Regions from separate parts of the Homo sapiens genome. Here region 1 is linked to region 2. Evidence: fine-mapped expression QTL. Tissue or cell type: macrophages. Region 2 holds a variant in brackets; the other region holds the start of a gene. All regions are shown on one strand. Distances are between the middles of the regions.

The links. PIP is the estimated chance that this variant, and not a neighbour inherited with it, causes the effect.
Region 1: it holds the start of IFT46, and the variant in region 2 is fine-mapped to the expression of IFT46 in macrophages (Nedelec 2016, PIP 0.91).

Annotation. Positions count from the first base shown.
Region 1 is chr11:118,561,964-118,569,963 of GRCh38, reverse strand. It overlaps IFT46 (intraflagellar transport 46), which reads left to right and starts at 4,033. Exons shown (of 12, transcript NM_001168618.2): 1 at 4,033-4,174; 2 at 4,903-4,999. LOC124902764 (a long non-coding RNA gene) reads right to left here and starts at 4,903. Exons shown (of 4, transcript XR_007062907.1): 1 at 4,590-4,903; 2 at 4,259-4,352; 3 at 3,678-3,762; 4 at 1,365-1,886. RefSeq lists an enhancer at 3,761-3,990.
Region 2 is chr11:118,584,535-118,592,764 of GRCh38, reverse strand. It overlaps ARCN1 (archain 1 coat protein complex I subunit delta), which reads right to left. Exons shown (of 10, transcript NM_001655.5): 5 at 8,121-8,230; 6 at 2,259-2,424; 7 at 1-56. Among named protein-coding and RNA genes, the nearest start is that of ARCN1, 16 kb to the right of the region's middle. RefSeq lists a silencer at 1,729-1,939. The variant G/AAATAAAG (reference allele first, on the strand shown) is at 3,343.

The DNA of each region.
Region 1 (8,000 bases), 23 kb after region 2:
GTTGCAGTGAGTTGAGATCACAACACTGCCCTCCAGACTGGGCAACAGAGTAACACTCAGTCTCAAAACAAACAAACAAAAAAACAAAGTCAGCTTTTTCCATTAAAACACACTGCCTCTGTATCTCCTGTGTGTTCCCTAACATTTATTGAACACTTACAGCATACCAGCCATTACTCTAACTTCACACAGATTATCTCATTTAATCCTCACAAGAATCCTCTGAGATAGGTACCTTTATTGTCTCCATTTTACACATGAGGAAATCAAGGTACAGAGAAGAAAACTATCCCACCACAGGTCTCATGGCTAAAAAGTAGGTAAGCGAGGATTCAAACAAAGGCTGTTCAACTTTGGACTATACCCTTAAGCACTGCATTATAGACTTCTTGCTCTTACCCGTATCAATTCCATCTCCAATGGCCTTCTAATAGAAATCTTTAGAAAGCTCAAATATTTTTAAATTTTATATGTCTGGGAGGATATATGTCAAACTGTATTTTAAAGTTTTTTTTCATTAAAAAAACTTTTTTAGAGAGATGGGGGTCTTGCTATGTTGCCCAGGCTGGTCTCGAACTCCTGACCTCAAGCAGTACTCCCATCTTGTCCCCCCAAAGTTCTGGGATTGCAGGAATGAGCCACTGAGCCCAGTCAATATTTTAAAAAAAAAAATTTTTTTTTTTTGAGAAGGAGTTTCGCTTTTGTTGCCCGGGCTGGAGTGCAATGGTATGATCTCAGCTCACTGCAACCTCTGCCTCCTGGGTTGGAGGGATTCTCCTGACTTAGCCTCCCAAGTAGCTGGGATTACAGGCATGGACGACCACGCCTGGCTAGTTTTTTGTATTTTTAGTAGAGATGGGGTTTCACCATGGCCAGGCTGGTCTTGAACTCCTAACCTCAAGTGATCTGCCTGCCTCAGCCTCCCAGAGTGCTGGGATTACAGGCGTGAGCCACAGCTCCCGGCCTATTTTTAAATTTTCTAATTGACACATAATACTTGTACCCACTGGCCAGGTGCGGTGGCTTACGCCTGTAATCCCAGCATTTTGGGAGGCCGAGGTGGGCGGATCACTTGAGGTCAGGAATTCCAGACCAGCCTGAGCAACATGGTGAAACCCCATCTCTACTAAAAATACAAAAATTAGCTGGGCGTGGTGGCCCATGCCTATAGTCCCAGCTACTCGGTGGGAGAATCGCTTGAACCCCGAGGCAGAGATAGCAGTGAGCTGAGGTCTCGTCACTGTATTCCAGCCTGGGCGACAGAGTGAGACCCTGTCTCAAAAAAAGAAAAAAAAAGTGACAATGGGTACAAACTTTCTTTAGGGGATGATGAAATGTCCTAAAAAAGATAACAACTGTACACATTTATGGGGTAACTTTTTATTTATTTATTTATTATTTATTTATTTATTTTGAGACAGTCTCACTCTGTCGCCCAGGCTAGAATGCAGTGGTGCCATCTTAACTCACTGCAACCTCCGCCTCCCGGGTTCAAGCGATTCTCCTGTCTCAGCCTCCTGAGTAGCTAGGATTACAGGCATGCACCACCACACCTGGCTAATTTTTGTATTTTTAGTAGAGATGGGGGTTTCACCATGTTGGGACAGGCTGGTCTTGAACTCTTGACCTCTGGTGATCCACCTGCCTCGGCCTCCCAAAGTCCTAGGATTACAGGCGTGAGCCACTTCACCTGGCCCAATTTTAATTTTTGTTACAAAAAGCAGACATATTTTAAGAAACATGGAACAAATTCTTATTTTTTTAGAAAAGTAAAAATCCTGTTAGAAACTATTGCCTTATTGTAGCACCTTCCAGGGCTTCCAACTTGGATCTCAGAAGCTCAGCAAAGACCAGTTGATGCTGCTTCTTCGGAAATATAACGGTAGCTGAATTAAACCACAGAAGAAAAAGCAACCCTGTAAGCATGCTTCTTGAGGAGTCCCATAGTGGCAGTATCTTATAATGGTTAAAAGCAGAGACTTAGGAATCAGACTGACCTGTGTTTGGCTGCTATTTTCAGCGCTTATTATGAGTGACTTTAGGCAAGTTACTTTAACTGTCTAAGCCTCAATTACTTAATCTGTAGATTGGCAGTAACATCTATCTCATAAGGTTGTGAAGTAAATTAGATGATATAATCTAAGTGCTCCCCACAAAAAAACTAAGTGCTCCTACATAGTAAGTACTGCACATTACATATCCACTATTACGAGCAAAACAGATCACAAATTTTTTTTTAAATGCAGTTCTATTTTTAACTATCAGTATGCCAGAAAAGCTGTCTCTCATTTTTTAAAGGCACTTTCCTTGTTTACCTCTGGTAGGTTTTCAGGGTCAAATTTCCAATATTATTTTCTTTTTAAAATGTATTGCTATTATTATTATTTTGAGACGGAGTCTCGCCCTGTCGCCCAGGCTGGAGTGCAGTGGTGCGATCTCGGCTCACCACAACCTCCACCTCCCGGGTTCAAGCAATTCTCCTGCCGCAGCCTCCTGAGTGGCTGGGATTACAGGCGCGCGCCACCATGCCTAGCTAATTTTTGTATTTTTAGTAGAGACGGGGGTTTCACCATGTTGGTCAGGCTGGTCTTGAACTCCTGACCTTGTGATCCACCCACCTTGGCCTCCCAAAGTGCTGGGATTACAGGCGTGAGCCACCGTGCCCGACCAAAAAATTATTATTGTTATTATTCATTATTTATATTTGAGATGGGGTCTTGATCTGTTGCCCAGGCTGGAGTGAATGCAGTGGCCCAATCTCGGTTCACTGCAACCTCTGCCTCCCTGGCTCAAGCAATCCCCCCGCCTCAGCCTCCCGAGTGGCTAGCACTATAGGTGCGTGCCACCACACCTGGCTAATTAAAAAAAATTTTTTTTTTATTTTTAATAGAGTGGAGGGGGGCGGTTCTTGCTATGTTGCTCTAGCTGGTCTCAAACTCCTGAACTCAAGCAATCGTCCCACCTCTACCTCCTGAAGTGCTGGGATTACAGGTGTGAGCCACCGCACCTGGCCTCCAATATTTTATGTTTCTCTCTCCCTGACTTCCCAAATTAATTATGTCCACAGTTTGAAAATATTTGTTCCTTACATCTCCATTCACTCATTCCTCGATTCATCCACCCAATGAGCATTGTTAGTGTCTAATTTCTGCAATACACTGGTGTTACAAAGCTTAAAAATTAATTAGACACAGGTCTTGCTTTAAATAAGTTAAAAGTCTACTTTAGCAAATAAGAAAGACAGGACACAGAGTGAAAAAAAATTTTTTTTGAGACGGAGTCTCGCTTTGTTGCCCAGGCTGGAGTGCAGTGGTGCGATCTCGGCTCCCTGCAAGCTCCGCCTCCTGGGTTCATGCCATTCTCCTGCCTCAGCCTCTCGAGTAGCTGGGACTACAGGCGTCCGCCACCACGCCCGGCTAATTTTTTGAATTTTTTAGTAGAGACGGGGTTTCACCGTGTTAGCCAGGATGGTCTCGATCTCCTGACCTCGTGATCCGCCCGCCTTGGCCTCCCAAAGTGCTGGGATTACAGGCGTGAGCCACCGCGCCCGGCCCACAGAGTTAAATTTGAACCTCAGATACCCAAGGAATAATTTATTGCTATAAGTATGTTCCATTCCATGGCACCCTGTGGAGGGGAAAGACTATAGTGTAATATAGTGCTAGAAAAGGACTTACAGAGTGCTGCGAAATTTCCCCTGGAATGTGTCTACATCCTGGTAAGACTGATCTGGGAGCAACTGCATCCCCAGAGATTGTTGTCCTAGGGGAACAAACGCACACCTTGTTTCCAGATTGAAGGGCTAACTCTACACCAGCCCGAAATTTATCAGCCGCGTTGCCACCCATAGCCGCTAGATGCCGCAACAGACGTATTTACTGAAACCATAGACAAACAGGCGACTTGGCCGCCCAGAGAGGCTTTATCCGTGACTCCTTGATCTTCTTCCTGCGTGGAGAGCCTTCGCGGGTGAGGCTTAACGCGCAGGAGGTCTCACGAGAGTGGAAGCAACTCTCGCGAATTTTAAAATTTATCTTTTTGCCTAGCGACTGACAACAGGCTGGTTGCTTGGCGTGGAATCCTAAAGTGGCCTGGCTTTGAGACTGGAGTGAGACCCCAGCCCTAGGCTGGGGTTCTTTCCATTATAGAGGAGACGGATTCAGAAGGGCTACAGGTAATTAGTACTCATCCCAGCAAAAAGGGAACTGTCTTTCTAGAGAGGCTTAAGAGGACTCCCCTTTACCCCATTCCCGGTTACCTCTTCCAATCTCCGTGGTAACTGTTCCTTCGTCACCTCACCACCAACCGTCCTGCTTCCTTTATTCCCCCAAGAAACTTAGGTGGGATCCTATCTGCAAGATAAGGGTGAAAGTGGAGGTGATGATTTTGGGATTATCGGATGGGACTGAGAGACTGGAGTTTCCCCTCTCTTCGGGGACCCTCCCACCCTACCCCGCCTCAGCCCACCCCACCCCACCCCACCCCACCCCACCCCACCCCACCCCAGAGGTGACTCCAGAGACAGAACTCTTTCTAGAACCTCTACAGCCTTCCCTGAGAAACCTCAACAGCCTTGGCCATCTACATACAAATAGTGTTCTGCCCTTGCGCGTGGTCGTACAGCTTTGGGAAGCTGCAGAAGTTGGCTCTCTTTCCCTCCACGATTCCCTGGTTCCTCAGCCAGCCTGCCAGCAGTTCCTAAATAAGGGCTGCAACAGAATGACTTAACTGCTTGACCGAGGGCCAGGAAGCCTGAAGGAAAGTTTGGATGGGGTGATGGTTTTGTGAAAAACTGGTTTCTTGAGTAAGGAAGAGGAGCCAATGCTGGTTTGGAATATACCTCCTGGCAGAGTGCTTTATGTCTCATGATAGGAGCTATGAATTATGTCTCCCTTTGCTTAGACCAAGGTTGTTGAAAACCAGACATATGATGAGCGTCTAGAGATTAACGACTCCGAAGAGGTTGCAAGTATTTATACTCCAACCCCAAGACACCAAGGTAAGAGAGGAAAGAAGAGAAATGCTACTGAAAGAGCAGGATGGATTCACGGTTGTCTTCAAGAAGTTCTTATTTTATAATAGCAAATGTTGACTTTCAGCGTCAATTTACTTCACTTGCCATTGTTTGTTTTCTGACTAGTTAAGGGGGAGAAATCATAGCCTTCCAAATTACAGGATCTTCCCCCAATCCAACCCTGTCACCATTTACTTCATGTTACTGCTTTGCTCACTGTCTGCCAGGAATTCACTGTTCTTTTTCTTTTTCTTTTCTTTTTTTTTAACTTATGTTTTTCCTAGCTTTGAAGATGCTTCATAACCTCCCCTTAGCCTGCAACCCCAACCAAAATCACAGTGGAATGTTTTTAAAGGACTGAACACTATTTATTTATTCAACAAACTTTTTTTTCTTAATTTTATAGAGACGAGGCCTCGCTATGTTACCAAGGCTGATCTTGAACTCCTAGCCTCAAGCAGTCCTTCCGCTTTGGCCTCCCAAAGTGCTGGGATTATAGGTGTGAGCCATCGTGTCTGGCCAACAAGCATTTTAAAATGCCTACTGTGTGCCAGCCTTATGCCTGGCACTTGGGTAAATAGTGTTAAATGACACAATGTCCCTGCCATCCCGATGCTGGTAATCATGGGAGGCAGATGACAAATGAGTAAACACATGCCAAATGTGGTAAGTGCACACTGATGGAGGCAGATTGTTTGCTGTTAAGGAGAATAACAGTGAGGAAGGAGACCCACTTTTTTTTTTTTTTTTTTTTTTTTTTTGAGACAGAGTCTCACTCTATCACACAGGCTGGAGTGCAGTGGTGCGATCTTGGCTCACTGCAATCTCCGCCTCCTGGGTTCAAGTGATTCTCCTTCCTCAGCCTCCCGAGTAGCTGGGATTACCACACCCAGCTAATTTTAGTATTTTTAGTAGAGACGGGGTTTCACCATGTTGGCCAGGCTGGTCTCGAACTCCTGACCCCAACTGATCCACCTGCCTCGGCCTCCCAAAGTGCTGGGATTACAGGTATGAGCCACCGTACCTGGCCAGAAACCCACTTTTGATAGGGTGGTCAGGGAAGACCTAAAGGGGTGACATGTAAGACTGATAGATGGCAGGGATCCAGACACTGAGGAAAAGTAGACCAGGAAGAGGAAACAGTATGTGAGATGTGAAAAACCTTGAAGCCTGAAAGAACTTGGCTTAGTTTGAGGACCTGAAAGAGACCAGCTTATGGTAGAGGGGACACTACCGTATGATATGGTCAGATCAGAGAGGTAGGGCAGGAAGCACAATAAGCAGAGCTTTGGAGGCTGTGTTGCTGTCGTGTGTGGAATGGACTGTTGTGATGGCTGAGTTGAGATGATAGTGGCTTGGCCTCTGGTGAGGAAGCTGAGAATAAAGAAAAGAGGCAAATACGGTATAAGACATTGTCGCAGAATCACTAAGACTTGGTGATGGATTGGATTTGACTCGAGTTAGGAATCAAGGATGACATCCAGGGTTTCTGTTTGTTTATTGTGGTAAAATATACATAACATAAAATTTGCCATTTTAACAATTTTTAAGTGTGCAATTAAATAACATTAAGTACATTCACAATGTTGTTTAACCATCGCCACTATTTCCAGATCATCCTGAACAGAAAATCCATACCCTTCAAAACAATAGTTCCCTATTGCTTGCTTCCACTCCTCCCTGGTAACCACTATTCTACTGTCTGTATGAGTTTGCTTATTCTGGGAACCACATAAGTGAAATCATACTGTATTTATCCTTTTGTGGCTGACTTACTTCACTTATTGTGATGTTCTTAAGGTTCATCTGTGTTGTTGAATGTAGACTTTCTTTTTAAGGCTGAGTAATATTCCATTGCATGTATATTGCACTTTTTTTTTTTTTTGAGACTGAATTTCGCTCTGTCACCCAGGCTGGAGTGCAGTGGCACGATCTTGGCTCACTGCAACCTACGCCTCCCGGGTTCAAGCGACTCTCCTGCCTCAGCCTCCTGAGTAGTTGGGACTACAGGTGCACACCACCACACCCAGCTAATTTTTTGTATTCTTAGTAGAGACGGGGTTTCACCATGTTGGCCCGGATGGCCTCGATCTCCTGACCTTGTGATCCACCCACCTCGGCCTCCCAAAGTGTTGGGATTACAGGCGTGAGCCACCGCACCAAGCCTATGCCACGTTTTTTAATTCATTCATTTGTTAATGGACACTCGGGTTGTTTTCATATTTTGGCTATTGTGAATAACACTGCTATGAACAGAGGTGTACAAGTGTCCATTTGAGTCCCTGTTTTCAATTCTTTGGGACCTAGCCACCTAGGTTTTTGACTTGAGCGTGTTTATGCTCTTGACAGCTGTGGATATTATAATTTGTTTTTAATTTGGGCTAATTTAGTAAATAAAAAAAGGGTTTAATTTGCATTTATTTGATATAGAAATCATTTATCATGTTTTCATTCCAGTTAATGCCTTACATCTAATTATACTTTTATTTTAATTTAATTTTTTATTTATAGAGACAGAGTTTTGCTCTGTCACCCAGGCTGGAGTGCGGTAGCATGATCACGGTTCACTGCAGCCTCGACCTCCTGGGCTCATGCAGTCCTCCTGCTTCAGAACCCCCGGTAGCTGGGACTACCAGCCCATGCCCCCATGTCCAGCTAATTTTTTTTTTTTTTGAGATGGAGTCTTGCTCTGTCGCCCAGGCTGGAGTGCAATGGCGTGATCTCGGCCCACTGCAACCTCAACCTCCCAGGTTCAAGCGATTCTCCTGCCTCAGCCTCCTGAGTAGCTGGGATTATAGGAGTGTGCCACCACACCTGGCTAATTTTTTTGTATTTTTAGTAGAGACGGGGTTTCACCATGTTGGCCAGGCTGGTCTCGAACTCCTGACCTCAGGTGATCCACCCGCCTCAGCCTCCCAAAGTGCTGGGATTACAGGCAGGAGCCACTGTGCCCGGCCTAATTTTTGTATTTTTTGTAGAGACAGGG
Region 2 (8,230 bases):
TTCAGGCCAATTAGAGACTCTGCAGTGAAAAGTTTTTTATCCACATTTGGATGGGTCTAGAATGAGAGGGAAAGGAAAACTCCTGAGGTTCAGATAGACGAGAAACAACCCCTCACTAGGCTTATATGGCCCACAATCTAAACATCCAAAATAGAGTACCTAACAAATTCCAATTCTTTTTCATTTTGAAGAAAGATTTCCCTTCTTCAAAGACTTATTTTAAAATGATTTAAGATACTTAAAAACTAGTAATTTTTTAAAAAAAAAGCTAATTTCAACTCTAAAAGCCATTACAGAACAAGTTTGCACCTGAAAAAGTTAAAAGACTATTAACCAAGTTCTTTCCAAAAATACTTCACAGGGAGCAGGTTCATGGTGGGGCCAGGTTTGCCAAGCAGAAGGCTCCAGTAAGACCCTGATCAGCTGCCTGGGTCAGACAGCAGTTCTGGCCTTATATAAAGTAGCAGAAAAGGGCAAGCTCTGTGTAAAGTCTAGTTGCAATTTTGCCTAGAGACTTAAAGTTGTTAAAATCCAAGCCAATTAAGATAGTCTTATCTTTTTAAAAGAAATTGCTTTTGGGGAGGCTGAGGTGAGAGGGGCATTGAAGGTCAGGAGTTTGACATCAGCCTGGCCAACATGGCAAAACCCTATCTCTATTAAAAATACAAAAGTTAGCTGGGGCTGGACATGGTGGCGCACGCCTGTAATCCCACCTACTCGAGAGGCTGAGGCAGGAGAATGGCTTGAACCCGGGAGGCAGAGGTTGCGGTGAGCCGAGATCACACCATTGCACTCCAACCTGGGCAGGAAGAGTGAAACTCCGTCTCAAAAAATAAAAAATAAATAAATAAATAAATAAATAAATAGCTGGGTGTGGTGGTGCACACCTATAGTTCCAGCTACTATGGAGGCTGAAGAGGAAGCATTGCTTGAGCCTAGGAGGTTAAGGCTGCAGCGAGCCAAGGTTGTGCTGCTGCACTCCAGCCCGCATGACAGAGAGAGACTGTGCAAAAACAAAAAAAAAAACAAAAAAAAGAACAAAAAAACAAGACAAAAACAAAAAAAACCCAGAAGGGCTGGGCATGGTGGCTCATGACTACAATCCCAACACTTTGGGATGATGAGGTGGGCGAATCATGAGGTCAAGAGTTCGAGACCAGCTTGGCCAACATGGTGAAACCCCATCTTTACTAAAAATAAAAAAAATTAGCTGGGCATGGTGGCAGGTGCCTGTAATCCCAGCTACTCAGCAGGCTGAGGCAGGAGAACTGCTTCAACTGGGGAGGCAGAAGTTGCAGTGAACCAAGATCGTACCACAGAACTCCAGCTTGGGCAACAGAGAGAGACTCCATCTCAGGAAAACAAAACAAAACAAAACAAAACAGAAATCACTTTTGGATAGCACTTTACAAGCCAGCAAAAATGTCAAATAATATAAGCACTGCTTCCAAAAGACAATTCTGTGCTGACTACGGTGGGGAAAGTAGACAAAAACACTCTTCCGTAAAAAGGCTTTGTTCTTGTGACGAGATGTCGGCTAAATGAAATGAAATTACAAGAACACCTGTAACATAAAGCAGGGCTTATATATATCTATCCAATAGTTGGAACACACACACTTATATTGAAAGGATTTTATGTACTTTTCAAATACACCATTAGATACTGCCCTTCAGTTAACAAAACAAGCACTGGCAGTTTATTTAATAGCAGAATGAGTAAATTTCGCATTGTGCCACCACGCCTGGCTAATTTTTTAAGTTTTTGTAGAGATAGGGTCTTGTTGCTCAGCCCTCATTGCTCAGGCTGTTCTTGAACTCCTGGGCTCAAGCGATCCTTCAGCCTCAGCCTCTCAGAGTGCTGGTATTATAGGCATGAGCCACCACACTTGGCCTAAAGCCTTGTTTTTTTAAAACTGTATTTCAAGCAAGATCCTAAGTGATTAATTTACTGTTTTCATAACAGCAAAAGACAAACACCTCCTTGTACCTTTTATTGGTGAGTATGAAGTCATTTATTAGATTTCGAAATGACCTTTTATTCAATTCCAATATTTAAAAGCCATCCTTACACAGCTGCTTTACTCACTCTCAGGTAGCTACTGTATGCAATATATTAACTTCTTTCCTAAGCGTTTAGAGTGATGCTAGTTATATAACTTAAGTAATTTTCTGTGGTTCATATTGGGAACTCTAGTTGAGAAAGACTATAATAGGTAGACAAAGTGTTAATACTCCCTATCAAAAGCTTCTACACACCTGTAGCTGCACCCCTTTCTTATCTTCATTTTCCACATGAAGACGAATTCGGCCATACTTGTCATCTGAGATCCTAAGCATGATCATGCCATGCAACTCCATATTCTGTAATCCTCCGTCTCGTCCACAGGTTAATGTTATCTTTTCTTCAATCTTCATATGTACACTATAAAGAGAAAGTAATACATTTGTTCAGAAAGGTAGAAACCAATGGCCGGGCGTGGTGGCTCATGCCTATAACCCCAGCACTTTGGGAGGCCAAGGCGGGCAGATCACCTGAGGTGGGGAGTTCGAGACCAGCCTGACCAACATGGAGAAACCCCGTCTCTACTAAAAATACAAAATTAGCCAGGCGTGGTGGTGCATGCCTGTAGTCCCAGCTACTTGGGAGGCTAAGGCAGGAGAATCGCTTGAACCACGAGGCAGAGGCTGTGGTGAGCCGAGATTGTCCCACTGCACTCCAGCCTGGGCAACAAGAGTGAAACTCTGTCTCAAAAAATAAAAAAGAAAAGAAAAGAAAAAAGAAAGGTAGAAATCAGAACTCCCTTTCTCCAAGGTCTAATGATTAGCCATCAACAACGTTTTTTTAAAGGTGCTACTGCTATAGCTATCAACATTTAAAAGGCGATACCCTTTGATACAGCAATTCTTCAACAGACTCTATCCTACAGATAAATTCTCACCTGTGCAAAACAATCTGCTAAGTTATTCACTGAAGAATTGTTTGTAATGGCAAAAGTTTAGAAACATGTCTGCCAATAGGGGGCTGCTCAAATAAAGGCATATTCACGGGCGTGGTGGCTCACGCCTGTAATCCCAGCACTTTGGGAGGCCAAGGCGGGTAGATCACGAGGTCAGAAGATCGAGACCATCCTGGCTAACATGGTGAAACCCCACCTCTACTAAAAATACAAAAACAAAATTAGCCGGGTGTGGTGACGGGCGCCTACTCAGGAGGCTGAGGTGGGAGAATGACGTGAACTCAGGAGGCGGAGCTTGCAGTGAGCCGAGATGGTGCCACTGCACTCCAGCCTGGGCAACAGAGTGAGACTCTGTCTCAAAAAAATAAAAAATAAAAAATAAA[G/AAATAAAG]GCATATCCACCCGAATGAATAGTAGGCAATGGTGAGAAAACAAACAACTGAAAAAACTTTCTATTTGTAAGTATTTTCAAGCTTAAAAAAATTAAAATTATACAAGGAAGACATATATACCCTTTTCCAGATTCACCTATTGTTAATATTTACCTCATTTGTTTTATAATTTGCACTTGTGTTTCTCTCTCTCTAAACATTATATATGTATGTTATACATTTGATTTTTTTTCCCTGAACCATTAAGAAGCAGATTATATACAACACGGCACTTTACCCCTAAATACTTCAGTGCTTATTTTATAAGATTAGGGATATTCTCTTACATAATCAATCACAGTACCATTATTAACTTCACAAATTTACACTGATAGTTTTTTTAGCTTTTTGTTGTTGTTGTTTTGAGATAGAGTTTCACTCTTCTTGCCCAGGCTGGAGTGCAATGGCGTGATCTCGGCTCACTGCAACCTCTGCCTCCCGGGTTCAAGTGATTCTCCTGTCTCAGCCTCCTGCGTAGCTGGGATTTCAGGCACCTGCCACCACGCCCGGTTCATTTTTGTATTTTTACTAGAGTCAGAGTTTTACCATGCTGGCCAGGCTGGTCTTGAACTCCTGACCTCAGGTGATCTGCCTGCCTCGGCCTCCCGAAGTGTTGGGATTACAGGCGTGAGCCACCGCACCCAGCCTGTTGTTGTTGTTTAAGAGACAGATCTTGCTATGTTGCCCAGGCTGGAGTGCAGTGGCTATTCAGAGACACAATCACAGTTCACTATAACCTTGAACTCCTGGTCTCAAGTGATCCTCCTGCCTCAGCCTCCTGAGTAGGAAGGACTACAGCCATGTGCCATCATGCCAGGCTAACAATGATACAATAATTGTATCCGATCTGTCAACCATATGTCAATTTCGTCAGTTGACCTAATAATATTTTTAATAGTAGTTGTGATATTATGATATACATACATACCGGTTTTCATCCATGGTTCCTAGCTCATAACTCCCATATCCCTTATTATACATAATGTTGGGGCACTTTAGGCCTCAGGAGCAGCCCTTAGAAAAAAGAACCTCTCTTTGACCTTCTCCTGCCCTCCTTTCACCAGCCCAAGGCAGGATCTCCAAAAGGGGTCCTGCACCATATCCTGGAGGAAGATTAATGCTGCACAGAGAGGCCAAGAATTTGGACAGGCCTTGCTGTGTTTCCCCACTCAGCCTATCAGTATTAGGTCATACCCTTGCCCAGTCACATTTCTGCATGCCTGTCAATCATGCCTATCCAATGAAGTCTCCATAAAAGGCTCAAGAGGACAGGGTCTGGGAAGCTTCTGGACAGCTGAACACATGCAGGCTTACAGGAAGATGAACAAGGTCTCATCTATTTTCCAGGAGGGTGGCGTACCCCAGCTCCCTGGGGACAGAAGCTCCTGTGCTCAAGACCCTCCCAGACCTTGCCCTATGTATCTCTTCATCTGGCTGCTTATTTGCATCCTTTAAAATGTCCTCTGTAACAAACTGATAAATGTCAAGTAAGTTTCCCTGAGTTCTGTGAGGTGCTCTAGCAGATTAATTGAACACCCCAGAGGGGGTCGTGGGAGGCCAAACTTGAGGTCAGTAAGAAGTTCTGAAAGTCTGGACTTATGACTGGTGGGAAGGAAGAATCAGTCTTGGGGGACTGAACTCTCAACCTGTAGAATCTGAGGCTATTCCCAGGTAGATAGCATCAGAATTGAATTGAATTGGAGGACACCAGCTAGGTGTGACCGCTTGATGTGTGCGGAAAAATCTAAACACACTTGATCACAGAAGTCTTCTGTGTTCATTGTTGCTGTTGAATGAGAAAATAGAAAAAACAAACAGTTTGAGTTGTTTTTTCTACACTACATTAGTAGAGGATCCAGTCTAGGGTAAGGTATTGCGCATTTAGATGTCATATCTCTGCAGTTTCAAATAAGGAGATTCTTATCTCCAAAATAATTAAATGAAAAATGCAATTGGAAGACGTGTCTAGTTTTACTGCTTTGCATAAAAGGGGGAAAAATAGACACACTGTATACATGTTTTTTATTCATCTGTATATCACAGACCATCCCCCTTAGAAGGATACACAAAAAACTCTGTTAATACTAGTTGTCTCCAAAATGAGAAACTGGCATGGCTGAGTGAGAGGAAGACTTCTGACTGTTAACAACTTTTGAATTTTGTACTATATGAATGTATAATCCAATTTTTAAAAGATTAAAAACTGCTGCTGCTAGAGGCAAGTATTAAGTACAATCTATTCATATTCAGTAATAGACATACGTTTGGCTGGATGAACTACAGAGGCTACAAAAAATATTTTGTTATCCTACCATGTTCTTTGTTCCAACCTCTTAGGTCTTCCTAGAAACAAAGGCATCAGAGTCAAGACCATAAAGGAGTGCATCTTAAGACAATGCATGGTACCATTTTACCTTCACAAAAGTTTGCTCTGTGCTCAAGAGGCAATTTATCATTTAGAAAAAAACAGTGTCTCAAATTCTCTTTAATATGTGATGATCTCCAACATTTTTTTTTTTTTTTTTTTTTTGGAGATAGAGTCTCACTCTGTCGCCCAGGCTGGAGTGCAGTGGCACCATCTTGGCTCACTGCAACCTCTGCTTCCCGGGTTCAAGCAATTCTCCTGCCTCAGCCTCCTGAGTAGCTGGGACTACAGGTGTGTGCCACCACGCCCATCTAATTTTTTGTATTTTAGTGGAGAAGGGGTTAATTTTTTGTATTTTAGTGGAGATGGAGTTTCACCATGTTGCCCAGGGTGGTCTTGAACTCCTGAGCTCAGGCAATCCGCCCACCTCAGCCTCCCAAAGTGCTAAGATTACAGGTGTGGGCCACTGCACTCAGGAATATCTTTTTAAAAGTGTGAAGCCTCTGTCTCACTCAAAGCAACCACTAGGAAGAGCACAGCGGCTTTAGTGAATCAAGAAATTTATCCCAATGTAACCCTGTTCATTTCATACAGAACAGGGCATATAAAGAGTAAATACTTGGCTGGGCACGGTGGCTCACGCCTATAATCCAAGCACTTTTGGGAGGCAGAGGCAGGCAGATCACTTGAGGTCAGGAGTTCGAGACCCACCTGGCCAACACGGCAAAACTCTGTCTCTACTAAAAATAAGAAAATTAGCCGGGTGTGATGGCGTGCACCTGTAATCCCAGCCACTTGGGAGGCTGAGGCAGGAGAATTGCTTGACCCCGGGAGGTGGAGGTTGCAAGATCGTGCCATTGCACTCCAGTCTGGGAGACAGAGCAAGACTCTGTCAAGAAAGAAAGAAAGGAAGAAAGAAAGGAAAGAAGAAAGAAAAAGAGTAAATACTCCTCTTTTATGCACACCTGATAAAGGTATCCTCCTGGTATTATCTTTCACTTGACCTCAAAACCATCAGCAACAGTAGAAGGTCTGGCTTCAAGACGAGAAATCTGAGTCACGAATATGTGAACTTGATAACTACCACTTAAAAATGTCACCAACCAGTACCACAGCCCTGAGATAAGAGATGAATCAAAATATTCCATACTGGCTTCAAATATTTAAACTGCAAAAGATGGCTGGGCATGGTGGCTGACGCCTGTAATCCCAGTACTTTGTGAGGCCGAGGCAGGCAGATTGCTTGAGTCCAGGAGTTCGAGACCAGCCTGGGCAACAAGGCAAAACCCCATCTCTACCAAAATACAGAAATTAGCCCAGCGTGGTGGTGCATGCCTGTAGTCCCAGCTACTTGGGAGGCTGAGGTGGGAGAATCACTTGAACCTGGGAGGCAGAGGTTGCAACAAGCTGAGATTGCACCACTGTACTCCAGCCTGGGTGACAGAGTGAAACCCCATCTCAAAAAAATAAATAAATAAAATAAAAATGCAAAATATATTAATTTGCTATTAAAGATATCTACAAGTTTTGGATTAAAGATTGGTTCTACTTAGACTTTAATTAGAAAAAGTCATGCCAAAATACAGTGTGGGGTCACCATAGCTCTAGTCCCCTAATTCAAGTGCATTCTAAGAGATACGCTATATACCAGGTGTGACTACAAGTAACTTTAATTTAGCTGTAAAAGGAAAGTTCTAAACTTCATAGAAAATAGGTGGCTGAGGGCCCCCAATCATGGTTTAAGGAAAAAGGAAAAGGTCAGGTGCAGCAACGCATGCCTGTATCCCAGTTACTTGGGAGGCTGAGGCAGGAAGATTAACTGAGCTCAGGAGTTGGAGGCCAGCCTAGACAACATAGTAAGACCCTGTCTCAAAAAAATAAAACAAAACAACAGCCGGGCGTGGTGGCTCACGCCTGTAATCCCAGCACTTCGGGAGGCTGAGTCAGGCGGATCACAAGGTCAGGAGATCGAGACCATTCTGGCTAACACGGCGAAACCCCATCTCTACTAAAAATACAAAAAAATTAGCCGGGCGTAGGGGTGGGCGCCTGTGGTCCCAGCTACTCGGGAGGCTGAGGCAGGAGAATGGCGTGAACCTGGGAGGGAGAGCTTGCAGCGAGCCGAGATCACACCACTGCACTCCAGCCTGGGTGACAGAGTGAGACTCCATCTCAAAAAAAAATAAGTAAATAAAACAAAACAAAACCAAAAACGATCTTATGTTAATATGTAGAATCTGCTCTGAATAAATCTTTTAAATCAGGAACGATTAAAAGACAGAGAAAGAATTTATAGCACACTGAAATAAGATTTTTAAAAAATTATGTGGACTGTATTCAAAGCTTGAATTCTTACTCAAAGTTCCTACTTACCTTTCCATATTAATGGGTGGAGCATGCATTTTGGTTGCTTCAGAAGTACGCTTGCCCATACTAGAGGACATGATGGTTTCACCTTCAGATTTTAATTTGTCCACAAAGTT